4 linked regions of the Homo sapiens genome follow. The protein of the gene in region 4 interacts with the protein of the main gene of each other region in a biochemical or structural test. Each region holds a gene or a part of one and is shown on either strand. Other genes may lie near its edges. The genes, in order: GLI1, EEF2K, PIP4K2A and RPS6KB1.

What was found.
Region 1: of the proteins of RPS6KB1 (region 4) and GLI1, one has a biochemical effect on the other in vitro, tested with the Homo sapiens proteins (one study listed by IntAct).
Region 2: the proteins of RPS6KB1 (region 4) and EEF2K form a complex in vitro, tested with the Homo sapiens proteins (one study listed by BioGRID).
Region 3: of the proteins of RPS6KB1 (region 4) and PIP4K2A, one has a biochemical effect on the other in vitro, tested with the Homo sapiens proteins (one study listed by BioGRID).

Annotation. Positions count from the first base shown.
Region 1 is NC_000012.12:57,469,118-57,474,080, reverse strand, and holds the end of GLI1 (zinc finger protein GLI1), read right to left. Parts: intron 4,651-4,963; coding exon 4,383-4,650; intron 3,765-4,382; coding exon 2,020-3,764; 3' UTR 1,813-2,019; downstream 1-1,812. Other genes in the region: ARHGAP9 (rho GTPase-activating protein 9), read left to right, coding at 1-39, 373-478, 1,393-1,564. UniProt on the Homo sapiens protein: Acts as a transcriptional activator. Binds to the DNA consensus sequence 5'-GACCACCCA-3'. Regulates the transcription of specific genes during normal development.
Region 2 is NC_000016.10:22,207,897-22,216,875, forward strand, and holds part of EEF2K (eukaryotic elongation factor 2 kinase), read left to right. Parts: intron 1-8,979. UniProt on the Homo sapiens protein: Threonine kinase that regulates protein synthesis by controlling the rate of peptide chain elongation.
Region 3 is NC_000010.11:22,605,839-22,614,817, forward strand, and holds part of PIP4K2A (phosphatidylinositol 5-phosphate 4-kinase type-2 alpha), read right to left. Parts: intron 3,880-8,979; coding exon 3,782-3,879; intron 2,186-3,781; coding exon 2,089-2,185; intron 1-2,088. UniProt on the Homo sapiens protein: Catalyzes the phosphorylation of phosphatidylinositol 5-phosphate (PtdIns5P) on the fourth hydroxyl of the myo-inositol ring, to form phosphatidylinositol 4,5-bisphosphate (PtdIns(4,5)P2). Has both ATP- and GTP-dependent kinase activities.
Region 4 is NC_000017.11:59,909,512-59,918,490, reverse strand, and holds part of RPS6KB1 (ribosomal protein S6 kinase beta-1), read right to left. Parts: intron 7,930-8,979; coding exon 7,880-7,929; intron 5,808-7,879; coding exon 5,687-5,807; intron 3,857-5,686; coding exon 3,788-3,856; intron 1-3,787. UniProt on the Homo sapiens protein: Serine/threonine-protein kinase that acts downstream of mTOR signaling in response to growth factors and nutrients to promote cell proliferation, cell growth and cell cycle progression.

The sequences.
Region 1 (4,963 bases), on a different chromosome or scaffold from region 4:
TGCCACCACTGCTGCTGCCCCATTTCCGTGCTGCCCTTGGTAAGGGTTGGAGCTTTGGAAAGAACCCTTGATGTGGGGGACACGGGTGGTAAATAATAGAATAGAGGTTCCCTTATACTCTTCTTTCCCATTCTGACTTTAGAGATGGAAAATAATGTTCAACTCAGGTGCCTACTCCAGTTGCTTTTTTGTGAATGTTTAGAGGGCTGAATTGAAAAGAATTATGAGGCTATAGTTGGGCTATGTGAAAAAGAAAGCTGTGCTAGATTAATGATGTCTTCCATGCCTGTGGGAAAGAGCAGTGCATTTACCCATCCTGTCCTAGCACCTTCCCTAACCTTACTACCATGCCTTTCCCATCACTCTCTCTAGCACTCTCCGAATCAGAGCAGTGCCTCTCTCAGATACAAGAATTAATAGGCTCAATGCCAAAGCCCAACCATGACACTCTACGGTACCTCCTGGAGCATTTATGCAGGTCAGGAAGACAGAACCTCTTTGTTCATGCTGGGGAAAGGTGGAGTGGGGAATGCCACAGGGACTCTGTGCAGGTGGAGTGAAGGTAGGGAAGCACCTAAGTTTAATGGGCAGGTGAGGAAGCAGGCAACCTCTGTGCAGGAGCATATTACCAGAGTCAAAACCTTTATTTTTTTATTTTATTTATTTTTGAGACAGAGTCTCGCTCTGTCACCCAGACTGGAGTGCAGTGGCGCAATTTCAGCTCACTGCAACCTCTGCCTCCCGGGTTCAAGTAATTCTCCTGCCTCAGCCTCCTGAGTAACTGGGATTACAGGTGCCCGCCACCACGCCTGGCTAATTTTTGTATTTTTAGTAGAGACGGGGTTTCACCATGTTGGCCAGGCTGGTCTCGAACTCCTGACCTCAGGTGATTTACCCACCTCAGCCTCCCAAAGTGCTGGGATTACACCGTGCCCGTCAAAGACTTTAGGTCAAAACCTAAAGGTCAGCATCAAGTGGGGAAATGGAACCAAGATGCTGTGAAAGGAATAAGGGAAATCTTACTTCTCCCTTCCCTCTGCCTCTTTGTCTCCCATTGGGACATTGCTGATGGCTTCTTTGGTTGAACTGGGCCTGGGCAGTGACTTCTGAGAGAGGATGGCCACTTGAATTAAAGACTCCCAAACTGTGAGCAGGCAGAACTCTTGGGGCAGCCCCTGAAGTCGGAAGAGGCAGTTATATCTTCAGGTTGTATCCTGAAGGTTTCTCCACTGGTCCATCTCCATTCTCCTTGTATCTCCTTGGTTTTTTTGTTACCATGTGGAGGAATCCCAGAGTGAACTCTTCCCTGCTCAGAACTTTGAAGGGTTAGTTAGATTGCTATGAAGTGGCAAGCTGCTGCCATATATCCCCTTCCTTGGCCTTTGCTTACAGGGTGATAGCACACTCAGATAAGAATCGCATGACACCCCACAACCTGGGAATTGTGTTTGGACCAACCCTGTTTCGGCCAGAGCAGGAGACATCTGACCCAGCAGCCCATGCTCTCTACCCAGGGCAGCTGGTCCAGCTGATGCTCACCAACTTCACCAGCCTCTTCCCCTGATGCAGGGAAGGAAGAAGAGAAAACATATTTCCGGTCATCTCTGGTGGTGAGAGGCTGGTGTTCTGTTTTGAGGATATCCCTTTAAATCTCCCAAATGACTGTCTCTATCTTCATGAGTGTGACTTGAGGTGTTGGGATGGGTGAGGGAGCTTCTCTAAAGAGGAAAGTGAGTGGATTAACCCCTGCTTCTCTTCTTGTTCCCTGTTATCATTCCTCCCCAACATAATAATACATAAAGTGGCATGGTATTTTTTCTGATGCAGTTCCTTTATTATCAGGAAACAGTGTCATTATCAAATTTCTCCTCAAAACGTATACAGACTATACATAGCCCCCAGCCCATACCTCCCATCCCTGGGGCATCTTGTGCATGGGACTGCAGCTCCCCCAATTTTTCTGGAAGGATAGAAACCCCTTAGGAAATGCGATCTGTGATGGATGAGATTCCCTACTCTTTAGGCACTAGAGTTGAGGAATTCTGTTTCCCCAGGTAGGGATCTCAGTAAGACACTCATGTTGCCCACAGCCATGTTGGGGGGCCCAGAGGGAGGTGGGGTATGTCCAGAGCTGCCCCGCTGATCATGGGAAGGAGGAGGACTCAGCCCCTGGGGCTCATCCAGAATAGCCACAAAGTCCAGCTGAGTGTTGTCAAGATCAAGAGAGTCCAGGGGGTTACATACCTGTCCTTCGGGAGGAGGGTACAAGGCAGGACCCCCTCCTAGCCTGCCCACCTCAGGATGACCACAGCTGGGGTTTGTGCCTCCCACTTTGAGAGGCCCATAGCAAGTGGGCAATGGGGGCAGAAGTCGAGGTGGTGCTGCTGCCCTATGTGAAGCCCTATTTGCCCCCACTACAAAATTTTCATGGCATGGTGAAGGGGTGGGATAGGAACCTGACTTGTGATTGGGCAAGTTGGGTCCAAAGCCAGGTCCATATGTGTTCACTGGAGCTTTAGCACGGCTTGGGCTAACCTGGGAACCCCCCAGAAACTTGGGACTCTGGTAGGAAGGTTCCTGGGCGGGGGCATCTTCCCTGCCCCCACCCTCCCACAGTAGCTCCTGTTGAGATTGAACATAATTACACACAAGCTGAGCCTTGAGCTGCCCTGTGGAATGGGTGGGGGAATCAAAGTCCAGGCAAGGCCTGGGTTCTGAAGGAAGATAATCAGGGGGTGGCTGGGTATAGGGGCCTGACTGGAGATATTGGGGAGGAGAGGGCTGGGGGTAATGGGAAAAGAGAGGCTGTGGATGTGGGGGCCCCTCACTGGGGTGGGCATTGAGGCAGGGTGCCAGTCCTGTGGAGTCAGACCCCACTGGGCACCCCTGTTCTGGCTTGACTTGCACTTGTCCATAATGTTCAAGTCGAGGACACTGGCTGTAGGTTCCACCTAGAGCCTTGGGGCCTGGGTACAGCCCAGAGTGGGAAGGGAACTCACCCCATGTTTCTTGGGTGGGGTCAGGATATGAGGCCTGCTGGGGACAGGGGTTGGGGCCATAGTTGGTGGGTGGACCAGGCCCAAGAGGCAGAGAGCCTGGACCCCTCGCTCCATAAGGCTCAGCTGCTGCCCCTTCAGGTCCCCCATATCCCAGAGTATCAGTAGGTGGGAAGTCCATATAGGGGTTCAGACCACTGCCCACCATGGAGGTCCCAACTTCTGGCTCTTCCTGTAGCCCTCTAGCATCCATGGCAGCATTCTCAGTGATGCTGGGGGGCTGTGGTGAGTAGACAGAGGTTGGGAGGTAAGGATCAAAGTTCTGTCCTCCCCCTGCCACAGTGGGTGGGGTATGGACACAGCCCAGGCTCTTGAACCTCTGGACTCTAGCTGGAGCAGGACGGTCAGCAGCCTGGGCTGGGTCACTGGCCCTCCGGGTGACCCCTGCATTGGGGTTGTATCCTGGATACTCGGCTCGGCTTCTCCAAGGAGGCATGGGAAGACCACCTATCCGATCCAGGCTGGATGCTGCAGTGGGCGAAGTACCACCCCCTCTGGCTGAAGCATATCTTGCCCGAAGCAGGTAGTGCTGGGCAGGCATAAGGCCAGGCAGGGAGGATGCTCCATTCTCTGGTGGGGAGCCAGGGGGGAAAGGAGAGGCCAGGGAGGAGCGGCGGCTGACAGTATAGGCAGAGCTGATGCTGCTGGAGCTGCTGCTGCGGCGTTCAAGAGAGACTGGGGGGCCCACGCGGCGGGACACAGTGGTACCTGCAAGTGATGGGGAGAAAAGGTAGGATGGTCAAGGAGCTTCCTAAATTTCACCCTGCCTCCTCCATGCAACAGCCTTGCCCTGGATTCTCAGGGGTAAGCTCGTTATCCCTAACCAGTCTGTTCTGTCTCCTACTTCTCCCATGCCTATTCTGTTTCTGGGTTACCAAGGATTCAGGGTTGCTATGAACAGTTGTGCAGGTTGTGTGCTGCACAATCCTAGGGAACAGCATTCGCATCATAGCCTTTGCATACTTGTTTGTTTGTTTGTTTTGTTTTGTTTTGTTTGAAACAGAGTTTCGCTCTTGTTGCTCAAGTTGGAGTGCAATGGCGCAATCTCAGCTCACTGCAACCTCTGCCTCCCAGGTTCAAGCAATTCTCCTGCTTCAGCTTCCTGAGTAGCTGGGATTACAGGTGCCCACCACCATGCCTGGCTAGCCTTTGCATGTTTGTACATCACAACTATTTTCTGATAAATGGAAAGTGTCTTGAGGAAGGACACCATTTTCTAATTATACAAAAGTGCTGTGTGACAGCCCTCAAGGGTGACTTCCTCCTCTCAACCTCAGGGCAGGTCCAGATCTCACCCCAGCCACACCTCCCACACCCAGGTCTCACCGGTGTGGGACAAGCTGGGCAGTTTGAGACCCCGGGTCCCTATTGGCCGGAGTTGATGTAGCTGGTCCAGCCTGAGGTTCTCAAGGCGGCGAAGAGTGGACAGACCAGTGCCAGCAATGCAAGGTCCCTCGTCCAAGCTGGAGAGGTCTTCAGTGCTGCCCCCTGCATTGCCAGTCATTTCCACACCACTGTCTGTATTGGCTGCACTCCCTGCCGGGGAGTGGTCACTGCTGCAGGATGACTGGGCCCCAGGGCTTGGCTGTGGCTTCTGTGGAGAAGATGAGGTCTGAGGGCAACACCCTTCCCCACAGCTCCTTCAACTTGATGAGTGGCTGAAGCCTGTGTCCCAGTGACTGCTGGGGTTCCAAGGAAGCTTGTAAGTGTAGAAAGGGCTAAGCAGGTAAGAGATGGGGGAGCAAACTGAATGTGAGACGTTTGATGAGAAGAACCTAGGCTGGAGCACGGACTGGCTGGACTCAAATTCTTGCTCTTAGTTCTATGACCTTGGGCTATTTCTCTATGCCTGAGTTTCTTCAACTGAAAATGGGAACAGTGAGTCCCTTTATCATGAAGTTGCTGTG
Region 2 (8,979 bases), on a different chromosome or scaffold from region 4:
TGTTTAAGCTGAGCTGGGGAAGAGGCAGGTGGAAGGAGGTAGAGTTCAGAGATGGCGTATGCAGGTGTCTTCCTTCTGTGTGGCCTCCACAGCACCCGATGTTCATTCCTTTGTTCAGCTATTAATTCAACAACTACAGTAAAACCTCTCAAGGACATGAATTTCAGTGTAACATGGCTGGGATTGGCGTCCGCCCTCCTCTCAGCCCCCATTCTCAAAGAAGGGGGTGGGGTCCGAAGTTCTTATCCTCTGCAGGGAATGGGGAGGCCAGAAGACAGAACTGAAGTGGTCACAGTTTACACATAATCATCGGTGTACATTCCAAGAGCTACCGGTGTTTTGGGCCAGGGGCGTGGTGGCTCAGGCCTTTAATCTCAGTACTTTGGGAGACTGAGGAAGGTGGATCACTTGAGGTCAGGAGTTTGAGACCAGCCTGGCCAACATAGGGAGCCCCCATCTCTACTAAAAATACAAAAATTAGCTGGGCATGTTGGCATGAGCCTGTAATCCCAGCTACTCGGGAGGCTGAGGCAGGAGAATCGAGAATCGTTTGAACCCAGGAGGTATAGTTTGCAGGGAGCTGAGATTGCACCACTGCACTCTAGACTGGGCAACAAAGCGAGACTCTGTCTCAAAAAATAAAAAAGATCCACCAATTTGTTTTTCTTGTGCTTTTTGTAACTGTACAGTACTTTTTGGCTGATTACGGATATATCACTGGCTGGGTGTGGTAGCTCACACCTGTAATCCCAGCCACTTTGGGGGTGCTGAGGCGGGAGGATTGCTTGACCCCAGGAGTTCAAGACCAGCCTGGCTGACGGGGTGAAACCCGGTCTCTATTTAAAAAAAAAAAAATCTCTGATTTGCTTTTAAAACATTTTACTGTATTATGTGGCAGAGAAAGCTATGGGTCACCAGTACCCATGTTCTCGTCCTCCTGGGGTGCTCCCTGGATGAATTTTCCTAGGCTTCCTTACCATTCGGTAGGGCCACACGGCTGAGTTTTGGCTGATGAAATGTGAGTGTGTCCATTTCAAGCCTCGACCCTAAAAACCTCTCACTCTTTCCTTATTTGTTGGACAAGTCAAGGCGACTTTGAAGGCCTAGAGGAGGGCAGAGCCACAAGCCAGAGGGAGTGTTTGTTGTTTTTGAGATGGAGTCTTGCTCTGTTGCCCAGGCTGGAGTGCAGTAGTGTGATCTCAGCTCACTGCAACCTCTGCCTCCCAGATTCAAGTGATTTTCCTGCCTCAGCCTCTTGAGTATGAGCTGGGACTACAGGCACATGCCACCGTGCCCAGCTAATTTTTGTATTTTTAGTAGAGATGGGATTTCACTGTGTTGGCCAGGCTGGTCTCAAACTCCTGACCTCAAGTGATCCACCCGCCTCCCAAAGTGCTGGGATTACAGGCATGAGCCACCATGCCCACCCGGGAAGGATGTCTTTAGGGTTGTTATCTTGCTGTGGGGAGAGTCCCCAAAGCAGTCTTGTCCAGTTTTTGGCAGGGTTGTCGTCTGGTTGCCGGGACTCTGGGAGCTGTGTGAAGAAAGCCAAGGGTGAACAGCAGAAGCTTGGACTTGTTCAAGCTCGTTCTCCGGGATTCACTATTTCTGGTCCAGTTCTTACACCTGAAGCAGAACAACTGAATGATCAGGGCTATAGACAAAGTAATAGCGGCAGGTTGAACTAATTTAAAAGAATCAGTGTTTTTTGTTGAGGGAGATTGGTTCTGCTGACCTGAAAGCTGCAGGTTATTACCCTGATGAACTGAGAAGGCTCCTAGAAGGTGGTTAGAGCGATGACCTTGTCTCCACCTGGGATGAAAGCGGCTTGGGCCTTAAAGTGTTGCTGGATCAAATTCTTGCAGCCAAGGCTGATGAGCACAAGCAAGGAGGCTTCTTTTTTGTTGTTGTTTTGAGACAGGGTCTTGCTCTGTCACCCAGGCTGCGGTGCAGTGGCACAGTCACAGCTCACTGCAGCCTGGAACTCCTCGGCTCAAGTGATCCTCCTGCCTCAGCCTCCCAAGTAGCTGGGACTACAGACATGAGCTACCACCATGGCTGGCTAACTTTTAATTTTAGTGTAGAGATGGGGTCTCACTCTGTTGCCCAGGCTGGGCTTGAACTCTGGGCTCAAGCGATTCTTCTGTCTGGGCCTCCCAAAGTGTTAGGATCACAGGCATGAGCCGTGCCCAACCATATAAGAAGGCTTCAGACAAAGGAAGGAGTGAGTCACTAACACGCTGATGATAAAGCAGAAAATAACAGTGCTCCCCACAACCCCCAAAGTCCCAGGGCTGTGGGACTCCTAGAGAAGCGTCTCAAATGGCTCCAGAGTCAGAAGGTGGATGGCGTTCTGTTCTCCAGCTGTGAAGCTTTCGAGCTCTAGCAAGGACTAGCAAGCCAGAGGAAGCACCCGGAAGTAGGTGGCTAAACTGCGGAAAATTGCCCTAGGCCAGCGTTTCTCTAACTTCAGTGCACATCAGCATCCCCAGCAGGACTTGCTTACACTTTGATTGCTGGACCCATCCCCAGAGTTTAATTTAGTAGGTCTGTAGTGAGGCTTGAGAATTTGCATTACCAGCAAGTTGCCAGGTGAGGCTGCTGCAGTGGCTGCTGCGGCAGCTGGTCCCATACTTTTAGAAGCGCTGGTTAAGGAAGTGATGACTGCATTGAAAGCTCTGGATTCAGCCCGCACCAGCTTCAAACCCAACTCTAGTCATGTGATTTGGGATAAGTCACATAACCTCTCTGTTCCTTAGTTTTCTCATCTGTAGAATGAAGCTAAGAGCGACTAACTCCTGGGGTTCAGGGGAGGCTTCATGAAGGAGGTGATATCTAAGCTGAGACCTGAGGGATGAGCAGTCAAGTTGGCCAGGGGATGAGTAGGGAGGACAGGCTGGGGTGTGTACCAGACAGAGGGCATAGCATGTTCAGAGCCCGAGGAGGAAGGAGTGCCTGCCTTCTAGGGAGCTGGGAGGAGTTATGTAGCAAGTGCTTTGTAAGTGATACTGAAATGCTACCAATCTGTTCTGGGCAGGATCACAGTGGAGAGGAAGCCAACCAGGGTATGGAAAATGGGCTGCTGGACGGGCTCAGAAATGGTACAAGTTATTTGTGCTCTTTCATTGGCCAGAATGCAGTCACATGACCTTACCTAGCTGCAAGGGATGCTGGGAAATGTCCGTGGCCAGGCAGGGGAGAAAGGATTCCTGGAGGAAAGCCAGCTCTCTGTGCCACCTGTGGTTTTCAGGCCCCCTCTCTCACTTCTTCTCCACCTTGCTCACTTTGCTCCACTCTGTTGAGTAGATGAATTTTACAGATGAAGAAGCTGAGGTTCAGAAGGTTAAGTAATTTCCCCCAGCATTCCTCAGCTGACTGTGGCAGGGCCAGGACTTGAATTCATCCCAAAGGCCTTGTTTGGCTAGATCTGGTTTTGGTGCTTATCAGGTCCTCCATGAGCCAGTCTTTCCCACTACGACCTCAGCCATGTCATTGGACTAAGTAACTCCTATGTAGTTACAACACAGTAGGTTGTTTTGTTTGTTTTTGTTTGTTTGTTTTTTCGGAGGTCTGGGGGCGGGGGGATAGAGTCTTGCCCTGCTGCCCAGGCTGGAGTGCAGTGGCACAATCTTGGCTTACTGCAACCTCTGTCTCCTTGGTTCAAGTGATTCTCATGCTTCAGCCTCTCAAGTAGCTGGGACTATACAGGTCGTGTGCCACCACACCTGGCTAATTTTTGTATTTTTGGTAGAGATGGGGTTTCTCCATGTTGCCCAGGCTGGTCTCGAACTCCTGGCCTCAAGTGATCTGCCTGCCTCGGTCTCCCAAAGTGCTGGGATTACAGGGGTCAACCACCGTGCCCAGCCACAACCCAAAAGTCCTTCTGTTTCTCCATTATATCAGCAGGAAACTGCCAGCTTTTCTTCACTTACTCGTTCATTCATGCAGCATGCACTTGTGCATTTATGGTGTGTGCCAGGCATTGTGCTTTGGGCTGGGAGCTGCAGAGGAACAAGACACACGGCCCCTTTTGTTCAAGACACTCACATGGTCTGGCCACCGAGAGGGCTGGGCACACAGTTCATGTGAGAAGTGAGACGTGCTGTATCCCTGAGCTGACCCACCAGGAGTAGAGTGTACCGTGGACATGCAGAGAGTGCCCAGCAAGTGATTAAACATTACAGTTCAAGCTCCCTTGTGCATTTTGCTAATCAAAGCTATAATTATATTTTGTGTTTCATATTCCAAAATGCATTTTTCAGATTCCTGAAACAATAAAATAGCCCTTGCATGATGACAGTTTTATATGCAGAAAACACAGTGTACTGCAATGATATTTTTACGAGCCTTTAGCAGAGCAAATGATGACGTATCTCTGGCTTCTGCAGCAGGTTGCTGTTTACATCGGTAAGTTGATTTCTCTGTCTCTTTCTTTTTTTTTTTTTGAGACAGAGTCTTGCTGTGTCACCCAGGCTGGAGTGCAGTGGCACGATCTTGGCTCACTGCAACCTCCGCCTCCCAGGTTCAAGCAATTCTTCTGCCTTGGCCTCCTAAAGTAGCTGGGATTACAGGTACACACCACCACACCCAGCTGGTTTTTGTATTTTTAGTAGAGATGGGGTTTTCACCATGTTGGTCAGGTCTCAAACTCCTGACCTCGTGATCCGCCTGCCTCGGCCTCCCAAAGTGCTGGGATTACAGTCGTGAGCCACCGCACCTGGCCTTCTCTGTCTCTTTATGGTATGTGGGGAGATTTGTTTTTAAAAGGAAAAGGGGAAGAGAGGGTTGGGGAGGGCTCCTTAAAATTACACCAGAGGCTGGACACAGTGGCTCACACCTGTAATTCCAACACTTTGGGAGGCTGTGGCTGGAGGATCACTTGAGTCCAGGAGTGGCAAGACACCATCTCTACAAAAAATTTTTTAAAATAAGCCAGGCATAGTGGCACAGGCCTGTAGTCCCAGCTACTCAGGAGGCTGAGGCGGGAGGATCCCTTAAGCCCAGGAGTTCAAGGATGCAGTGAGCTGTGATTATGCCACTGCACTCCAGCCTGGATGAGAGATCAAGACACCCACCCAGTCTCTTAAAAAAGAAAGAAAGAGGCCAGGCACAGTGGCTCACGCCTGTAATCCCAGCACTTTGGGAGGCGGAGATGGGTGGATCACCTGAGGTCAGGAGTTCAAGATCAGCCTGGGTGACATGGTGAAACCCTGTCTCTACTAAAAATACAAAAATGAGCCAGGCATGGTGGCACACACCTGTAATCCCAGCTACTCAGGAGGCTGAGGCACAAGAATCACTTGAACCTGGGAGATGGAGTTTGCAGTGAGCCAAGATGTAGTTGCTGCACTCCAGCCTGGGCGACAGAGTGAGACTCCATCTCAAAAAACAAAAGAAAGAAATTCCACCAGATTCATTCTAGAGCTGGGTTTCTCAGCCTCGGCACTGACATTGGGCCGGACCTTCTTCACTGCAGGGGACTGTTCTGTTTATTTTAGGATGTTTGGCAGCATCCCTGGCCTCTATCCACTAGATGCTAGTTGCACCCCTAGAGTTTCAACAACTGAAAATGTCTCTAGACATTGCCAAATGTCCCTTGAGGGAGCAAAATTGCCCAAGGTTGAGAGCTGCTCTTCAGGACTTCGTTAGTTTCCAATTGCTGCTGTAACAAATTGCTGCAATTACTTAGTGGCTTTAAAACAACACATTTATTATCTTATAGTTCCTGGGGATCAGAAGTTCTAAAATCTAGGTGTCAGCATGGCTGTGTTCCTTCTGGAGGCCCCAGGAGAAAATCGGTTTCTTTGCCTTCTCCAGATTCTAGGGGCTGTCCTCATTCCTTGGGCTCCTGGCCCCTCCCTTCCATCTTTGAAGCCAGCAGTGTGGCAACTTCACACCTTTCTGTCTTTGGTCACATCTCTTCCTCTAACTCTGACCCTTCTACCTCCTTTTTATAAGGATCCTTGTGATTACACTGGGCTCACAGGATAATCCATGACTGTCTCCCATCTTAAGATCCTTAATCACATCTGCAAAGTCCCTTTTGCCATATAAGGTAACATATTCACAGGTTCCAGGGATTAGGATGTAGCCATCTTAGGGGAGCCATGTTTCTGCCTGCCGCAGACAGTCTGGCCTCAGGTTATAATGAAATTTGCTTGTGGAGGGTTTGTAGGGAGCGAAGTGATTTAGGGAGTCGGGGACTGGAGGATTATTGGGACATAACAGCAGCTAGTACTTTTGAGAGTCAAGTCTATCCCAGACACCATGTGCCTAATCTCATTGTATCCTCAGAACAACCCCTGCAGGGGTACTGTTAGCTGACCCCTGTTTACAGAGGAGGGAACTATCCAAGGAAGGCTTTCTGGAGGCCAGGTGCAGTAGCTCATGCATGTAATCAACTTTGGGAGGTCGAGGCAAGAGGATCGCTTGAGGCCAGGAGTTCAGAGGCAAGAGGATCACTTGAGCTTGGGAGACTGAGGCTGCCGTGAGCCATGATTGCACCATTGCACTCCAGCCTGGGTGACAGAGTGAGACCCTGTCTCAAAAAAAAAAGAAAAGAGACCAGCCTGGGCAATGTAGGGAGACGCCCATCTCTATAAAAATAAAATAACATAATTAGCCAGATGTGGGTGGTATGCACCTGTAGTCCCAGGTACAATGGAGGCTGAGGTGGGAGGATCACTTGAGCCCAGGAGTTGGAGGCTGCAGTGAGCTATGATTGCACCACTGCACTCCAGCCTGGCCAACAGAGCCAGACTCTCTCAGCAACAACAACAACAACAAACCCAAAAGAAACAAACAAGGAAGGCTTTCTGGAGGAGGTCAACATTTGAGCTGCGTCTTGAAGAGATTAAAGGGTTTTGCTAGTGAGTGGGAAAGGGATTCCAGGCAGAGGTGTTACTGGTGGAGGGTGTCCAGGTTCTTGGCATTTTGAGCAAAGAATTGGACAAAACACACGAACAAAACAAGGAAAGAAAGCAACGAAAGCAAATATTTACAGAAAACAAAAGTACACTCCACAGGGTGGGAGTGGGCTTGAGCAGATTGCTTACAGAATTGCCTGGGGTTTAAAAACCCTCTAGAGGTTTCCCATTGGTTACTTGATGTACACCCTATGTAAATGAAGTAATGGCCTGGGATCAGTCTGATAGGTTGTGGAATGCGACCAATCAGAGGCTGAAGTGAAGTTACAAATGAAGACTCCTATACAAACGAGGACTTGGCCAGCACCAGCCTGATTGGTTGTGGGAAGGGACCAATCAGAGGTAACTTCAGTTTTTCATCTGCCACGCAGGTAAGTTGGGGGTTGCAAAGGGAGTAGCCTCTGGTCCTTTTGTTACTTGGGCTTGGAAAGTAGGGGTTTTCCTTTTGATTTAGTTCTAGGAAGTCAGCCTGAATCAGCCTTAGGTTCCCTGCCTCCAGACCCTATTCGCCTGCCTCAGAGGCACCTGCAGATAGATACAAGGGCAAGGAGGTGAGGAGAGTTTGGTGGTGCATGGAGATTGATTCTTGGACTTGGAAACTTGGGAAGCTGAGATGGCAGGGAGGAAGGGACGGATGGGCTGGACTCTGTAAATTGGTCCTTTCATTCTGATGTACTATTTCTCTCAATAGTTTAAATAAATGTTTATGAGCACCCATTATATGCTAGGGGTGCAGACATTAAGACACTGATGTGAACTCTTAGCTTGATGCTTGACTTAATCACTCCTAATGCTGCATCCCAGTAAATAAACACTGAGCAGCCAGACACGGTGACTCACACCTATAATCCCATCTCTTTGGGAGGCTGAGGCGGGTGGATCACTTGAGGTCAGGAGTTCAAGACTAGCCTGACCAACATGGTGAAACCCCGTCTCTACTAAAAATACAAAAATTATCCAGGTGTGGTGGCGGGTGCCTGTAATCCCAGCTACTCGGGAGGCCGAGGCAGAAGAATCACTTGAATCCGGGAGGCGGAGGTTGCAGTAAGCCGAGATCACGCCACTGCACTCCAGCCTGGGTAACAGAGGGAGACTCCATCTCAAAACAAAAGAAACACTAAACATAAGGGTATTTGAGTTCATGTTGAGCACCTGTGCACTGAAGGCAATACAAGGTATGGGGGGAGGGATGGAGACAGCAGTGCAGACCTTAGGATGTCACAGCCCACCTGACAAGTCTATTGTCTAGGAGAGGGTCCCAGCTCCTAATGGTGGGGCCCAGGATTCAAACCCTGGCCATGCGGCTGTAGAGGACAAGCTGTTAGCCACTGTATTGGGCTTTGGTTTTTGTTTCTTGTTTGAAGGAAACTCGGGACTCCAGCTAGGGTTTAAAATATCTTCAGAACAAGCCAGGTGCAGCCCTCAACAGCCTAGCGCTGTGTAGTTCCGCTCCCTTAAGGTTGCCTTTTCAGAGGTAGACTGTCACTTCTGGACCTAGCAGCTCCTGTCATTGTCAGAGGAGAGTCCAGTGTAGCACCTGGTGTGCAGTCAGTCTTTCACGTGCATTATTTGTCTTTCTTATTTCCATAGAAATTACGCCTTTTTGAGGTTGATAAGCTTTTGAGGTTGATAAGCAGATAAGTAGCTCTTCTGCTTACTTATCACTCATTCACAGCACAAAAGCCACACTCTCCCTTCTCTGAATTCGTGTTAAACTGTGAGAAACTCAGCTTCTTCTAGTTGGTGGAATAAGACAGTGTCCTTGGCATGGTATGTAAAGGAACCAGATGGCTGGGCACTGTGACTCATGCCTGTAATCTCAACATTTTGGGAGGTTGACGCGGGAGGATCACTTGAGACCAGGGGCTTGAGACTAGCCTAGGCAACACAGCAAGATGCCGTCTGTAATAAATAAATAAAGGAACCAGAAGAAGACCTACCAGTGTAGGGATAGGGTGGGGAAGGGAAGTAGTAAGGGGAAGTAGAGCTAAAGTCTCATTTATCATACCTGGAAATCAGAAGATAGGATGAAAATAGATAAATTAAGAAATAA
Region 3 (8,979 bases), on a different chromosome or scaffold from region 4:
CCTTTAAAAAAAAAAAAAAAGCACCTAGTTCATTTTCAGGTGGCCTCTTTAAATTTAGTAATGGTTCTAAAGTGATACAGAATTATTAATTTTAACTTCAGAGAAATGCTTTTTACTATTCTAATAATTTTCTGTTAAAGTTAATTATTTTTACAGCAGTAAATTTCAAGTCCATAATTGTGATCTAAGTTCTCTCTTAAAAATTAAGCCCCAAGGCCAGGTGCACTGGCTCATGCTCTGGGAGGACGGCTTGAGGCCAGGAGTTTGAGACCAGCCTGGGTAACATAGTGAGACCCCAATCTCTACCAAAAAAAAAAAAAAAATTAGCTGGGCATGGTGGTGCACACCTGTAGTCCTAGCTACTCTGGACGCTGAGGTCGGAGGATCACTTGAGCCCAGCAGTTTGAGGCTGCAGTGAGCTATGATCACACCACTGTACTCCAGCCTGGGCAACAGAGCAAGACCTTGTATCAAGAAAAAAAAAGAAACGCCCTAACAGGAGTGTTGGCTCCCACGCAGTTTTAATAGCAGATGAGCAACCACATCCTTCCTGTCCCACTAGCCAGCCCTCAGCTCTTCTGTGTACACAGAGCCTCAGCTCAGGGTCTGGACCTCCATGTAAACCACAACCCCAGGCCATCATGAGACAATGTCACCGGCAGCCTGGTCAGCGCTGCTTTCTCCAAACATGGCAGCCTCTCTCATGCCTGAGTAAACATATGAAAAATTCCTGGAAATTTTTGGCAATGGTACAGAGAGGGCAGTGGGAGCACAGATCTTTAGGAAAGTGTGCTAACTATCTCAGTTTGCCTGAGGGACCCTATTCTTCAGAGGAAAATACAGGGTAAGCTGTATCAGTACTCAATCTGTAGTCACCCAGGGTGGCAATATGTCACTTAATGCAGGATAAATTCAGATCTTAAATTGAGGGCAGATTAGGACTAGATTTGAAGGGACTTAAGTCAGTATATGCTGAGCATCCTTTATTTGAAATGCCTGCAGCCAGTCGTATTTCAGATTTTTTCAGATTTCAGAATATTTGCAAAGATAATGAGATATCTTGGGGATGGGACCCAAGTCTAAACACGAAATTTATCTATTTCATATACACCTTATACACATAGCCTAAAGGTAATTTTATACAATATTTTAAATAATTGTGTACATGAAACAAAGGCTGTGTTGAGCACTTAACTGTGGAATTTTCCACTTGTGGCATCACGTTGATGATCAGAAAATATTCGATTTGGAAGCATTTTGGATTTCAGATTTTCTGATTGGGATACTCAACCTGTCCCTTGGATTTCCACTTTTAAAAAAAATCCTTAGCATTTACGAATCTGGCTCGCTATATGAAACTTGGGTAACCAATGTCAAATCCTTTCTCAGAAAAAAATGATCATGGCTCAACAGTTATTTAAAGAGTTAAAACAGATGTTTAAAAGTTAGAATGAAGGACCAGGCCAGTGTGGGGAGGAGAGCAGCAGTGCACATTTTTACGTGGTGGGAATCAAGATGAAGAGGAAGATGTACCACAGGACACGCCCAGGATGTTGGGTTCCTGGTGCTGACCACAGTGCTATGGTCACTCCACAGTCCAGCACTGCAGTGCACAAAGGGTGCCCTTTGACAAAAATGCTGCAGCAAGAGTCTGACCAACTTGAAAAGCAGCAAATCAGCAAGATAAAGATTCCTGAGAGTCCTAAGTAGCCTCTACGAAGATACAAAACATGCACACTCACACAGGCTACTGACATGTCTGACAGCAGAAATTAACAGGCAGCTCTGCTAGCCTGTTAATTTCCACCTGGAAATGAGAGTATTATATAAAACCCTCACATGCTCAGTCTCCTTCCAAAGAAAAGTAATATATTTTCCTACTGACTTTTATACCGGTATCATATGTATAGAGGTCCCCAATCAAGAGAACACTTTACTTCAGCATGAACATTAAAAACTTCTTACACAAAATGAAAATTACTATTATATAATACTTTTATTGACAAAAATACAGATCCCAATTGACACAGCAAAAGTCATGGCAAAACCCATTTCCTACTGGAAGCAAATGTTACAAACGCAACTCACCTGGAAATCTTGATCATCAATTCCAAACCTCTCCCGCAGGTTACGGAAGACCATCGGGCAGTATTCCTTAAACTTGAAATGGCTCGGCATGTTTTCTCTGAAACAGTCACAGCGTGGAATAAAGCTCAGAGAGAGTCAATCAGACTTGCATCTGCCACCACTGAGTTCCACAGGTAGCCAAAGAAGGGTTCAGAGTTCACTGCCTACCAAAAGCACAGGTGTGCTTCCTAGAACCAGGTACAACCCGCAGAAAGATCCAGGAGACACAGGGGGCCAGACGGATGTCTGTCTGTCTCCTTTGTCACAGGCACGCTTGGACTATGTGACCTCTTTAAATCCTGGCCACACACTGCAGCCATTCCTCAAAGAACAAGAGGTGGGGAAGGAACGGGCCAGGCAGGGGGAGCAGTGAGGGAAAAGCACAATGGCGGGAGAGTGAGTTAGGAAGAGGCAGCGGAGCAAGGTTCCCTCTCAGCTACTGCTGAGGAAAGGAGGGCCACTCCCTCACCCCCCTAAAAGGCCTGTTTTATATAAATGCCACATTCTAAATTTGCTTAGAGGAAATTCCCTGAAAGTCAGCTTCTAAACACTGTTATGAGAAAAATTAACATCAGCTTCACATAAGGACAATGGCCCCCTGAAGAAATTTCATAATTGGCCTGGCATGGTGGCTTACACCACTCATTTGTAATCCCAGCACTTTGGGAGACTGAGGTGGGAGGATTTCTTGAGGCCAGGAGTTTGAGGCCAGCCTGGGGAACATAGTGAGACCCCTGTCTTTACAAAAAGTTTTTTAAAAAATCAGCTGGGCATGGTAACCTGCACCCGTAGTCCCAGCTATTCAGAAGGCTCAGGAAGGGGGATTGCTTGACCCCAGGAATTTGAGACTGCAGTGAGATATAATTTCACCACTGCACACCAGCCTGAGCAACAGAGCAAGATCCTGTCTCAAAAAAAAATTTCATAATGATCCTCACATGGGAGTGATTTGAGGTTCACCCTAATCATTCAGAATTGTTTCCCTCTTTGTGTTCCCACACAACCAGATAAATTAAATTATACATATGCACACACCCCTCCCTTATCATACTTTGCACACTGAACTATAGCAGTTTGTATATGTGTCAGTTTTTGTACTCTGAGCCCCTTGAGGGCAGGGCCGTGTCTTCTATATCATTGCATCTCTAGCTCTCAATGGACCACCTAACATATAATAGGTGCTTCATAATGACGTCTAAAACAACATTCAAATGAAGGAGGAATGTTATCAATGCCCAACATGGCATCTAATTGTGCCTTATGAAAATGTACCTTGGGTCTTTATTGTTCTAAGATGGAGTCATTGCTGTTCATAAATCATCATTTTCAAAGTTCTGTGTACAAGAGCAGAGGTTCATAACTGCTCAAAAATCCAAGCAATTTACAGCTTCAAAAATTTGAATTATAATGAGAATATCACTTTCAACGTATAAGATATTCATAGAGAACAATATGCCATATGGCAAAGGATATTATCCCAGAGAGCCTGCTGTTGCTTCTCTAAAAATGACAGATGGTTATGTTTATCACAGGATTAACTTCATCAGCAAAACTTTACTCCCACCCATTGACAAATTATGTGATTACAAAAATTCACAAAACTTGTACTCCTAGCAGCCACGCTAGTCTTATGAAAGGTCATACTTGTACTTACTTGTTAAAAAGGTGATTGTCCACCTTTATTTTTGAATAGGCTTTGAAGTCATCTGGCATCAACATAACAGGGATTTGAACATGGCTCAGTTCATTGATCTGGAAAAATATAAAATAAATAGCATGGGTTATTACTATCCAGGTGAGGAGGACTTGACTTGAATGTGTACCTTGGGAAAAAAAACATGGTGGACACAGGAACTTCTCTTCCCACCCACCAACCCACCCTCCTTCCCTCTGCCATCATAATCTCTCTTCCTGCCTTCCTCATTCCCACTTCTTATGTCTGTCTGATGCTGGGTCCATGGTGGCCACCGGACGGCAGTGGTGAGGGAGAGTCAATCCTCATGCCACCTGTCCCTGCTTCTTGCCCATCCACTCTCCCTACCTTCCCTCCACAACCTCATCCCACAGACCCTTTGGTCACATGTCCAGGACAACTTCCTTCTGTAAAGAAAATGTTATCTGAGAAAGAAAGCTTTTAAATTTTTCACGTAAATATTTGTTGGATTAATGGACGTGATTTATATATTGAACTCATCTGTGTGCTCTTTACTTCCCTTACAGGAACTAAGTTTAAAAATAAAGATTGGGGTGGGGCATGAATTTACCAAAAGAAGAACCTCCATTCAGGGAAGGAAGAAGACACGTGGTCCCAGGACTACAAGAGAAGGAGGTGGGTTGGACATGAGTCAAGAACAAAAGCAAAGATGTGTTTCCAAAGGACAAAGGGTAAGATCAAGTTCCAGTGAATGAAAGGGACAGCTTTGGACACAATTTTGAAAAACCTGAACTTTCTCTTCGTTAACTATTTTTGCATGTTGACTTTCCTTGTTGCTAGCAATAAAAACCATGTCAAAGATTTATGCTTCCAGTAGGATAGAAGGCAGGTACGCTGAAGGATTCTCAGTTACAAAAACAAAACAAGCAAACAACAAAAGAATGAGCTGCTTGATAGAGCTATTTGTTTTTTTTAATCACATTGCTGGGTTCACAGACAGTAGAGGCAATCTCCAAGACACCTTTCTTCCCCCAAAGTGAGTTTAATCCACAGGGAGTGTGGGGACCATTAAGCAAGCCTGAAAGGAGGGACTCCGAGGACAAATGCCAGTTTCAACACTTACTTGGGCCAAACGAAAGCTGGGAGCTCAACAAAGGCTTCAACGTTAACCTGAGATCCTTGAAGGAAGCCTTTGAAAGTGGCCCCAACACCTGGTGGAAGTAAATGTAAATGATCTCCGGAGGAGAGCAACCCCTGCCAGGCCTCCAGGCTTCCCACAGATGAAGATCAATCAAACATGAGCTCACAGAGACAGCAACGACTAATTAATATTTTCAAGACTTTAGTTACTAAGATGATCAGATATAGAATTTTTTAAGCTGTGAGAAATTATACAGAAATAGAAGATGAACAAAAGATGATTATATTTGAAAAAATAATGATTCAGAATTTTCCACAATTAATGCACGTTATAAATCTGTAGATACAGTTGGGCACAGCAGCTCATATATGTAATCCCAGCAATTTGGGAGGCTGAGGCAGGAGGACTGCTTGAGCCCAGGACTTTGAGACCAGCCTAGGCAACAGAATTCGTCTCTAACAAATAAAAAAATAACAAAAGTTAGCTGGGCGTGGTGGTGTGCACCTGTAGTCCCAGCTACTTAGGAGGCTGATGAAGGAAGATCACTTGTATCCAGGATTTCAAGGCTGCAGTGAGCTGTGATTGTACCACTGCACTCCAGCCTGGGTGACAGAGTGGATCCATGTCTGTTAAACAAAAAACAAACAACAACAACAAAAAAAAAACAAAAAAAAGCAGAATACTCAAAGCAATATATAAGTAAGAATACTCAAAGCATACCTAGATACGCTGTAGTTAAACTAAAGAAGGCCAAATGCAAAGAGAAGAAAGGAATGGTGGCCAGAGAGAAAAGGCAAACACAACAGAGGAATGATAGTGACAGCTGACAGCTAGCTTCTCAAACCCACTGAACAAAAACAGGAATCTAACGTCATATAGCTTCTCCAGTTCACTTTACTCAAGCATCTTATGATACTAAGTCATTCCCAGAGTATATCTATGAAAAATTAAAGTTTATGTATCCTTATGCTATCAGTGGAATATCAAAGTTTGAAAAATAACAGAAAAAGAAAATCATAATGGAAATCCAAGTCTTGTGATAATAAACACAATGCGAATGAAGCTGGATGCCAACTCAATCAGCACTTCGATATCTTGTGGAACAAGAGAAAGCGAAACCCAACGTGGAGGTGGGATCAGACACTGATTATTTAAATGCGCGTGATGTGTTCAGCAGATCCTCCAAAGCTTTGATGCCTCCTCAGGCTGCTTAAATCAGTATCACTTAAGAGAGTCTTCTCAGACAGGAAACAGGAAACCAGAAACTTTCTGCATCCTTTTGCTTTATGGTACCTGCTCTGGAACATGTTTTGTGGAGAAAATATGAAAACTTCAGCCAACATGGAATGAGTAAACTGAGAATTTTCCTTATTGATTTTCCTTCCCCACCCATCCTCGCGTCAGCACAACCTTTAAGAGTCCACTCTGTGCTGGGCACAGCTCGGACACCAGTCTTTGTCCTCTTGGGGCTTATGGTCCAGAGGGGCAGACACATTAACTGAAGAACTGCCCCAAGTGTTGAACTCTAACAATGACAGAGTCAGGAGGGAGAAGCACAATGGGCTACGAGCAAGTATGGAAAAGGCCCAGGCCAGATGGGGGAGGCATGTGAGGCTTCCCTGGGCAGCAATGGCTCGTGGAGAAAGGAGAGGGCAGGTGGACAGGGCTTCCAGGAAGAAGGCGAGTCCTAGAGAGGAGGGGACACTGTTAATGGGAAAACAGTGCAGAAATAGACAAGGTGCGTGGCATGAAAGGGATGAACAACAGGCCCAGGAGCACCGGGAAGCGGCTGCTGTAGAATTGCACCAGACAGAGGAGAGCAGCTCAGCAGAGGGCGGAGGCGGCAGCAGAAACGAAAGAAGCAGAGAGACTCCGGCATGCTGAAGTGCTGAAATCTATGGGGCTTGATGATGACAGACTAGAAATGTAGGGAAAGATGGAGGGAATGCTGCATGCATGCGGGGGAAGCTGGTGGGTCCAACGACTGGCACAATGCATCTTAAGAGAAGAGTTCAGTTTTGAGCTTGTTAAACTTCATGCGCTCTTGGGACATCTAAGTGTCAATGTCAGGTAGGCCGTGGACAGGTGGGTCTGAAGTTCCCAGGGGCAGCAGGGGCAAGAGATAAAAATGTGTGTATCTGTGCATCAGACATTAGCTCCCCAGAGGAGTGGATGAGGTAACCTGGAGAGGGGCCGGTGTGATGGGGAGGAAGGCGGAGAAGCAGTCTTCAAGAACGGGAATGTTTCCAAGCCTGGAGAAGAGGATGAGAAAGGGGAAAACTGCCATCGAGGCAGGAAGTGAAAAAGCACAGGGCCACCCAATGGGAGTGAAGGGAAAAGGGGGTTCAAACATGCTATGGGATGATCATGATGCTTTTGAGAAGGCAGGGACTGGGAAATGTCAGCCAGATTGAACGGCACAGGAGGTCCTTGGCAACCTTGGCAGAGTTGTTTCGGTGGAGTGTAGCAATGGAACCCAGACTAAGTTGAGTTAAGGAAATGCTGGCACTGCACAGGGCTGATTTCTAAGGAGCCTGGCAGGGAAGGACAGGAGCGAGATGAAGAGGGATGAGGGACAGAGGGAGGACCTGACAGAGAAGGGACATTCCGTAGCACTTCTCGAGAAAGTGGGAGGGGATGGGATTCAGGCATGCAGGAAGGAGAGGCTCTGAGGAGGGAAGCGACTTTCCTGTTCACAGGAGGGAAAAGAGATAGGTGTCATGGGGAGGGAGCAGAACTGATGGAGGGAAGATGGGGCTCCCGACCACTGGCTCCTATTTTCTCTGGGGATTAGGGCCATGGCCACCTGCTAAGAGTGAGAAGCAGGCTGAGGACTTCAAAGGTTAAAGAGAACACAGAGAGCTTAAAAAGGGGACTGCAGAATGTGGATGGACAAGTTTAAATAGAGACAGGAGGCTGGGCTTCCGGGCAGAGCTGAGCGTCATCCACAGTTTGTGATGGTTCACGTACAGGAACCAAGTGAACTTGTGGATGACATTCCTCATTCTGGCAGAGCTCAACCCCAGGGTGCAGGTGCAGAGACAGGATGACAGGCGTTCTTCAGGATGGAGGGTGTTTGCTGGCTGAGTGTGACATAAAGGGGAAAGGAGTTCCAGGACCATCACTTGGAAATGGAAAGTCAGTACAAAACAAGATCCCTGACTGTAAGGAGTTTTCCACTGTAGTCGATGGTGCAAGACCTTCACATGTAGTAAAATACCAAGCAGCACAGAAGAAATGCTGAAGCCAGACAACAAGTGCCACAGAAGCACAGAGCAGGAGCCCGTGGTCACGGGTGTGGGTGACGGGCTTCTTGGAAGGAGTGCAGCCCTACATGGCCCTTGAGGGACGGAGAGTTCTGACTACTGTGTCATTTAAATGTCAGGGAAACACAAACTTTTAGCTATTCCCCATCTTCCAAAACCAGACTACCCCAAGAGGTAGAGAATGTTTGGTCCTCTTTATCTAAGAAGACAAGAAATGAGACAAGAAGAAAAATCAAATGGTTTACATGGAATCATAAGATGCTGAAATTAAAAGAGAATTTCGGAGATCATATAGTCTAACCTCTCATTTTGCAGATTGTAATATGTCCTGGTACAGCAGTATCTATACCTTCATAATTGAGTAGTGCGGCAGGATACTGAGTTAGATCTGACAGCTACTTTATGGCTACTTTATCTTTCTTCCAGGTGGCCTTTCATTCTTTACATTTGCATCACATTGCTTTTGGCTTTATTTCCCCTCCGGATTCCCCCCAGAAAACTTCTTCGTCAGGTGGTAGCTAGATTTAATGACTTGTAAACAAACACTTCACAAAACAGAGGATCTACTACTTAAAAGAGAAGCTTTTAATTAGTAAACTATTTTTTCAATAGTGTACCCATGAGCCTCTATATTATTTTTTCTACAACACATTTTATTGTGTTGTATATGAGGCTTAGCGATCATTCGTCAGTTTTACTGAAATGGATTACTTGCAGAGCTGCTTAATAACTGAAAAGACATTTAACTTCCTGAAAAACTCTCTCCTTTAGCCTGTTACTTTGCTCTTACC
Region 4 (8,979 bases):
GGCTGAGGCAGGAGAATCGCTTGAACGCAGGAGGCAGGGGTTGCAGTGAGCCAAGATCGCACCACTGCACTCAAACCTGCACGACAGAGTGAGACTCTTGTCTCAAAAAAATAATAATAAACATTAAAAAAAAATAAAACTCTCAGAGGGGTAAGAGAAGATATTATACTCATTAAACAGGTTGCTATAAAACAAAAACAACAGAAAGAATTCTGGAGAATCACAAATACAACAGCTTTAAAAAAAAATTTAGTCAAATGGCTGGGCACAGTGGCTTACGCCTGTAATCCCAGCACTTCAGGAGGCCAAGGCGGGCGGATCACCTAAGTCAGGAGTTCGAAACCAGCCTGACCAACATGGAGGAACCCTGTCTCTTCTAAAAATACAAAATTAGCCGGGCATGGTGGCACATGCCTGTAATCCCAGCTACTCGGGAGGCTGAGGCAGGGGAATCGCTTGAACCCAGGAGGCGGAGGTTGCGGTGAGCCAAGATTGCGCCATTGCACTCCAGCCTGGGCAACAAGAGCAAAACTCCATCTCAAAAAAAAATTGAGTAGAAGAAAGTAAACAAGACAAAGAAATGGAAACGTGGAAAAGATAAGAAAAATTAGATGATCGGTCCAGGAGATCCAACATCCAACTAATTGCAATTCCAAGAAGAGAAAACAGTGGGAAGGAAATTACCAAATAAATCACATAAGAAAATTTCCTAGAACTGAAAGACTAAAGCTTTAAGATTAAAAGAATAAAAATAGGCTGGGCACAGTGGCACATGCCTGTAATCCCAACACTTTGGGAGCCAAAACAGAACAACTGCTTGAGGCCAGGAGTTCCAGGCCAGCCGGGGAAACACAGGAAGACCTTGTCTCTACGAAACATTTTAAAAATGAACTGGGCGTGGTGGCATGCATCTGCAGTCCTAGCTACTCAGAAGTTGTGGCAGGAGGATCGCTTGAGCCCAGGAGTTACAGGTTACAGTGAAGTATGATCACACCACCACACTCCAGCCTGGGAAACAGAGTGAGACCCTGTCTCTTAAAAATAAATAAATTAATTAATTTAATTAAATAGGCCGGGCGCAGTGGGCCATACCTGTAATCCAATCCCAGCACTTTGGGTGGCCGAGGCGGGTGGATCACTTGAGCCCAGGAGTTCAACACCAGCCTGGGCAACATGGTGAGTGCCCATCTCTACATTTTTTTTTATTAGCCAGGCCTGGTGGTGCGTGTCTGTGGTCCCAGCTACTCAGGAGACTGAGGTGGGAGGATAGCTTGAGCCCAGGAATTTGAGGTTGCACTGAGCTATAATTGTGTCACCGCACTCCTGTCTAGGTGACAGGGCGAGACCCTATCTCAAAAACTAACTAAATAAAAATAATAATCAAAGTCAAAGCAACACACATCACTATAAAAACTTAGATCAGAAATAAAGAGAAAATCTTAAATATTTCCACAGAAAAAATAGGCCATGTGTAAACGACTGGGAATCAGAATGCCAAAGCACTTCAACAGAAACTCTCAAGAATAGAAGAAAACTGAGCAAAATTCTAAGTGAAAATAATTTTCAACTCCAATAACATAAACAATCAAGTAAATAAAAATGTAAAGAAATTCTCAAATATGCAATATGGATATATTTTTATTATAAATGTATCTTTATATACCTTGTCTGAGGGAGCCACTAGTATAGTGTCACCAAAACAAGGACATAAACTAAGAAAAAGGGAAAAAATGAAGATATGGGATCCAGGAAACAAAAGATCCAACACTGAAGGAGCCAAGAGGATTCCAGGGTTGTGGTGAAGAAAGAGTCCAGTCATAACAGTTGTGACTAAAGAGCTACCACTCCAGATGGGAACAGGTGGATAGAAAGTTCCTAAGATATGCCTCTGGGAAATAAATGGAACTGATAGATTATCTTATAAGCCTGATCAAAGAACATTAGACTGAAAGGTGTTTTACAAAGTTGTTGGAAGACATCAGAGGACAATAGTAGATTCAAAGAAAGCAAAACAAAATGAGAGGATGAGGATAAAGGAGGGTGAAGTAAACAAGAAACAAATCCTTAACTCGCATAAAAGAAAGTTAATACTGCCAGGCTCGGTGGCTCACGCCTGTAATCCCAACACTTTGGGAGGTCAAGGCGGGCCGATCCCCCGAGGTCAGGAGTTCGACACCAGCATGCCAATATGGCGAAACCGCATCTCTACTAAAAATACAAAAATTAGCCGGGTGTGGTGGTGGGCGCCTGTAATCCCAGACACTCAGGAAGCTGAAGCAGAGGAATCGCTTTAACCTGGGAGGTGGAGGTTGCAGTGAGCTGAGATCACGCCACTGCACTCCAGCCTGGGCAACAGAGTGAGGCTCCGTCTAAAAAAAAAAATTGAAAACTGCTGAATTAAAAAGATAGCAGTTGGCTGGGCATGGTGGCTCATGCCTGTAATCCCAGCACTTTGGGAGGCCAAGGCGGGCAGATCACCTGAGTTCGAGACCAGCCTAACCAACATGGAGAAACCCCATCTCTACTAAAAATACAAAATTAGCCGGGCGTGGTGGCACATGCCTGTAATCCCAGCTACTAGGGAGGCTGAGGCAGGAGAATCACTTGAACCTGGGAGGCGGAGGTTGTGGTGAGCCGAGATCACTCCACTGCACTCCAGCCTGGGCAACAAGAGCAAAACTCTGTCACAATAAAAAAAAAAAAAAAAAAAAAAAAGATAGCAGTAGGCCAGGCGCAGTGGCTCGTGCCTGTAATCCCAGCAGTTTGGGAGGCCGAGGCAGATGGATCACCTGAGGTCAGGAGTTCGAGACCAGCCTGGCCAATATGGTGAAACCCCGTCTACACTAAAAATCCAAAAATTAGCCAGGCGTGGTGGTAGGCGCCTGTAATCCCAGCTATTAGGGAGGCTAGGGCAGGAGAATCACTTGAACCTGGGAGACAGAGGTTGCAGTGAGCTGAGATTGTACAACTGCACTCCAGCCTGGACAACAGAGTGAGAGTTCATCTCAAAAAAAAAGAGATGGCAGTACATGCTTATTACTTAGAAATAAGGAGATCAGAAACAGTGAAGAGTTACCTCAGCAAAGAATTGCAAGAGCTCTCTTTTCCACACTCACCAAGCAGAAATAAAAATAGGAATAACAGTAATGAAACATACCTCACATTCTAAAAAGTATTGCAACTGTGTTAGAAATACATTTTTTGCCGGGTGCGGTGGCTCATGCCTGTAATCCCTGCACTTTGGGATGCCGAGGCAGGTGGATCACTGAGGTCAGGAGATCAAGACCATCCTGGCCAATATGGTGAAACCCCGTTTCTATCAAAAATACAAAAAAGTAGCTGGGCGTGGCAGCATGCACCTGTAGTCCCAGCTACTCGGGAGGCTGAGGCAGGAGAATTACCTGAACCCGGGAGGTGGAGGTTGCAGTGAGCCGACATCGCACCACCGCACTCCAGCCTGGGCGACAGAGCGCGACTACGTCTCAAAAAAAAAAAAAAGAAAAGAAAATAAATACATTTTTTCTGTAAGAGACTGGGTCTTACTACATTGCTCAGGCTACCCTTGAACTCCTAAGTTCAAGCAATCCTCCTGACTCAGTCTCCCAAGTAGCTGGGACCACAGGTGTGCACCACTGTACCTGGCTTGAGATACATTTTTTTGACTGCAAATTTTAGGCCAAAATGTTACAACAATTAAAAATATGATATGATTGCTTCCCAGCCTTTTGGCTGAGATCAAGTGTAAAAATATGGTGTGTGAGGACTAAAAAGGGGGAGTGGAAATCACCTTTTTAAGCACCTTCATGGCAAATATTTTCCCAGTATTTGCTCCTGTTACTTTTCGTACTTGAAAAACCTGGATTAAAAAAAAGTGTGTGTTATTCAAAGGCAAACTATGTCAGGCATACTCCCTTAATTCCTAGTTATAAGAAACATATGCCACAGCAGTTTATATTATAAAAACTATGTGCAAAAATGATCAGCTAAAAGAACAGACCACATTAATGATCATGACTTTCCTGTTTGTTCTGCTGCCATCTGGTGGTAATGTTGGACAATGACCATCTAATAATAAACACTGTTACTTTATATTAATATATAAAATCCTACTTAGAACAAGCTATAAACAGTGTTCCCAGAGGCATAATACCACCTTAAAAATTATAAAATATTTCATAAATTTCTTTCAAGGTTGCTTGCCACTGCCCTTGCTTCACATAAAACTATTTAAAAATAGTTGGCAGTAAAAATTATAAAATATTTCATAAATTTCTTTCAAGGTTGCTTGCCACTGCCCTTGCTTCACATAAAACTATTTAAAAATAGTTGGCAGGAAATTACTGTTTACCTATTACTTAAAATAGTTTGTACTAATACTTGGCCCTCTGAATCTACAGGTTCAGCAGCCGTGGATTCAACCAACCGCAGAATGAAAATATTTGGGGGAAAAAACAATAAACAATACAAACAATAAAAAATAACACAAATATGGCCAGGTGAGGTGGCTCACAACTGTAAACCCGGCACTTTGGGAGGCCAACTCGGGTGGATCACCTGAGGTCAGGAGTTCAAGACCAGCCTGGCCAACATGGTGAAACCCCATCTCTACTAAAAATACAAAAATTAGCCGGATGTGGTGGCGCACACCTGTAATCCCAGCTACTCGGGAGACTGAGGCAGGAGAATCGCTTGAATCTGGAAGGCAGAGGTTGCAGTGAGCTGAGATCGTGCCACTGCACTCCAGCCTGCGGGAAAGAACGAGACTCTGTCTCAAAAATCATAAAAAATAAAATAAAAAATTAAGCATATGGGAGGATGTGTGTAGCTTATATGCAAATACTATGCCATTTTATATAAGGCACTTGAGCGTCGGCAGATTTTGTTATCTGCAAAGGTCTTGGAATCAGTTCTCCCTTACCCCTCCCCCATACTGAAAGACAACTATAAACATTTTCATGCAACACCTAAAACATGTGAGATTCAAAGTGCATGTGTTGCACATTCAGGATGATTAGAAATTACAATGTGTTCTTAAGCATAAGAATAGGCTACAAATGTCTGCTTTGCAAAAATTAACACTACACAATAGCAAAAATAATTCTTAAAACTTAATACTAACCAAGTTATTATCTAAATTATTTTGATAAGAGAATAGTTTGGTAAAAAGTTTTGTGGGCAGAACTCATAAAAGTGACGTCTTAAGTTGTAAAGCCTTGGGCAAAACTGTGAAACTAAATAGTTTTCTTCCCCCTTTTTATATTCCTTCAGCTTCCCCAATTCTATTGCTCCAGAAAACCAGTTGAGATTAAGGTCTCAGTAACAGATAACAACTCAGACTGCCATGTCTCTTGTAAGCAAGGAGGGCTTTATTTTTAAAGAGGATACCATTTAACCAAAGTAAAGAATGAACCCTTTAATAATAGACTTTGCCTGGTACAGTTGTCTATTTATGTATTCTATGAACCTTGACTGAGTACCTATTATGTGCCAGGCTTTTACATGTGTGGTGGTATGAAAAGAAGGGAAAACTGAACTTCTGTACATCCCTCAAACATACCAGCTAAGTGGTCATGATCACATCCTTTGCTGATAGCTGACAAAGACTGAAGATGACTGCTGGAACCAGGGCATAAAAATCAATCTATTCAAGACAGACAACAGCTCTCATTTCAAAAATATTGCCTACCTTTCCATAGCCCCCTTTACCAAGTACCCGAAGTAGCTCAAAACATTCTGGTCTGATTTTTTCTGGCCCTCTGTTCACACTAGTTTCTGAGATTTCAAATTTCTCACAATGTTCCATGCCACTGGGAAGAAAAGCAAAACCAAAAATAAATTTGCAAAAAGTTAAATTACTTTCAGCATATAGTCAAGAAAAAGGAGACAGAGAAATGTAATCTAAGTAAGTAAAAGTAAAAAAGTACATGACACCAAATTATTTGTGCTCTAAACAAACAGAACAGCAGGTCAAGAGGAGGGTGGCCTGATAATCGTTTGCCTCCTTGTTCATAGAATGGGCAATCAATTATTTACTTATTTTTATAATTGTTTATTTTATGCATAAAGGGGTACTATGGTTTTTCATTGGGTAGATGCCTTGGATAATCCATTCAAGTAAGATCACTTAGTCCAACTTAATGAAATCTATATCCTTCGTTTACTGATAGAAACACTGGCGCACATATTGAGGCCGTATTTCTGGATCAGACCTTGCCAGTTTGAGCAGACACAACAAGAGCAAGAACCCTGATTGAATTTTCATGGGTGACTCCAATACAGCTGCTGGTGACCCATCTTGCTCTTAGGAGTGCAACAAAGTAAAAGAAGACAATTATTTATTTTCATAAGCATCAAGCACCCCAAAGCTAAGGTAAGTTAGAAAAAGTTCATTAAGTTGACAAAGAAAAAAAGTCTTGCAGTTATTCAAATTTACTTCATTGAAAATATCTATGAAATTAGGTATTATCCAACCTCATTTGGCAATGTCAGCAGAAAATCAGGGATCTTTCCAAAACTACCCAATTAGTTCACATCATAGTACAAAACTTCTTCTCTGTATCTGTTTTTTCAAGTTATTAGCTTGATTTAAAGAATCCAATGGGCGTGGTGGCTCATGCCTGTAATCCCAGCACTTTGGGAGGCTGAGGTGGGCGGATCACTTGAGGTCGAGAGTTCAAGACCAGCCTGGCCAACATGGTAAAACCCTGTCTCCACTAAAAATACAAAAATTCCAGCCTAGCCAACATGGTGAAACCCCGTCTCTATTAAAAATACAAAAATTAGCTGGGCGTGGTGGCAGGAACCTATAATCCCAGCTACTCAGGAGGCTGAGGCAGGAGAATCACTTGAACCTGGGAGGCAGAGGTTGCAGTGGGCCGAGATCATGCCATCACACTCCAGCCTGGGAACAAGAGCGAGACTTTGTCTCAAAAAAAAAAAAAAAAAAAAAAAACCCAACAAAAATTAGCCAGGTGTGGTGGTGCGCTCCTGTAGTCCCAGCTACTTGGGAGGCTGAGGCAGGACAATCGCTTGAACCCAGGAGGTGGAGGTTGTGGTGAGCCGAGATTGTGCCACTGCACTCCAGCCTGGGTGACAGAGGGAGACTCCATCTCCAAAAAAATAAAAATAAAGAATCCAAAAGGGGTAGCAATTGTCTCTGTCATTTAAATGCTTTCTACATGAGTGATCTATCTTCTCATTCTCCTCCTACACTAATGCTTTTTACTTGAGAGTACAATACAGAGCAGATTAATCACCATACTCACCTAATGGAGCTTGTCTAAAATGACTTAAGATTACATGAATTTCTTTTTTGTTGTTGCTGTTGAGACGGAGTCTCGCTATGTCGCCCGGCTAATTTTTGAATTTTAAGAAGAGACGGGGTTTCGCCATGTCGGCCAGGCTGGTCTCGAACTCCTGATCTCAAATGACCCGCCCACCTTGGCCTCCCAAACTGCTGGGATTACAGGTGTGAGCCACTGTGCCCAGCCGGATTGCATGAATTTCTGTTTGAATGACTGTATGAATTTCTGTTTGTATATTTAAGCAAAACAGAAAGCATTTGACTTTTTGAGGCATTTCTACAAATTTTTCTGTAAGAAAAGATTAAAACTGTGGCTCTTTAAACTAACAACTCAGATTCATATTTAGTACTCTGAATCTGAATTAATATCTTTTCCTCAAAATCCATACATAATCTCAAAACTCTGATAGGTTATATTGATCAGATTTTGGTGCCAAATTCAATACATCGAGTTGATAAATATGACTACATATTTAAGAACAGGTTACAGGAATCACATGATTGCTACGAAATAGAACTGATAAAACCTACTTGTAAGAAAGACAACACAATGAAAATCTCTTCATATAAACTTACAGTTCATATGGTCCAACTCCCCCATGGTCCATGCTTTCATTTAACTGACCCTGAAAAATATGTTAAAAGTTTCAGAAATAATCTAATAAACATAAAATTTAAAGGTTTAATTCTTTGTCTCATAACTGAAAGAGAATGAATGAAATAAACCAGCCTAACAATTCTCTTATACTTCAACAACAGGCAAATATGGTAATGAACAAAACACAGTACACAAACAACACTATGGGAATTTCACTCTAAATTATTTTACAAATAGAGATGAGGTCTTTCTATGTTGCCCAGACTGGAATGCAGTCAATAGCTATGAAGGGGTATGATCATAGCATACCAGAGCCTTAAACTCCTCAAGTGATTCTTCTGCCTCAGCGTTCCAAGTAGCTGGGACTATAGGCACCCGGGTTTTTTTTTTTTTTTTCTTTTTTGAGATGGAGTCTCACTCTGTCACCCAGACTGGAGTGCAGCGGTGCCATCTCAGCTCACTGCAACCTCCGCCTCCCAGGTTCCAGTGTTTCTCCTACCTCAGCCTCCTGAGTAGCTGGGAGTATAGGCATGTACCACCATGCTTGGCTAATTTTTGTGTATATATATATATTTTTTGAGATGGAGTCTTGCTCTGTTGCCCAGGCTGGAGTGCAGTGGCGCCATCTCGGCTCACTGCAACCTCCACCTCCCAGGTTCAAGTGATTCCCCTGCCTCAGCCTTCCGAGTAGCTGGGATTACAGGTGCCTGCCACCATGCCTGGCTAATTTTTTATATTTTTAGTAGAGATGGGGTTTCACATATTAGCCAGGATGGTCTTGATCTCCTGACCTTGTGATCTGCCCACCTCAGCCTCCCAAAGTGCTGGGATTACAGGCGTGAGTCAACACTCCCGGCCCTAATTTTTGCATTTTTAGTAGAGATGGGGTTTCATCATGTTGGCCAGGCTGGTCTCGAACTCCTGACCTCAGGTGATCCGCCCTCCTCGGCTTCTCAAAGTGCTGGGATTACAGGCGTGAGCCATCACACCCGGCCCCAGCTTTTGCTTTTAATTTTATATGACAGGCTGGGCATGGTGGCTCACACCTGTAATCCCAGCACTTTGGGAGGCCGATGCG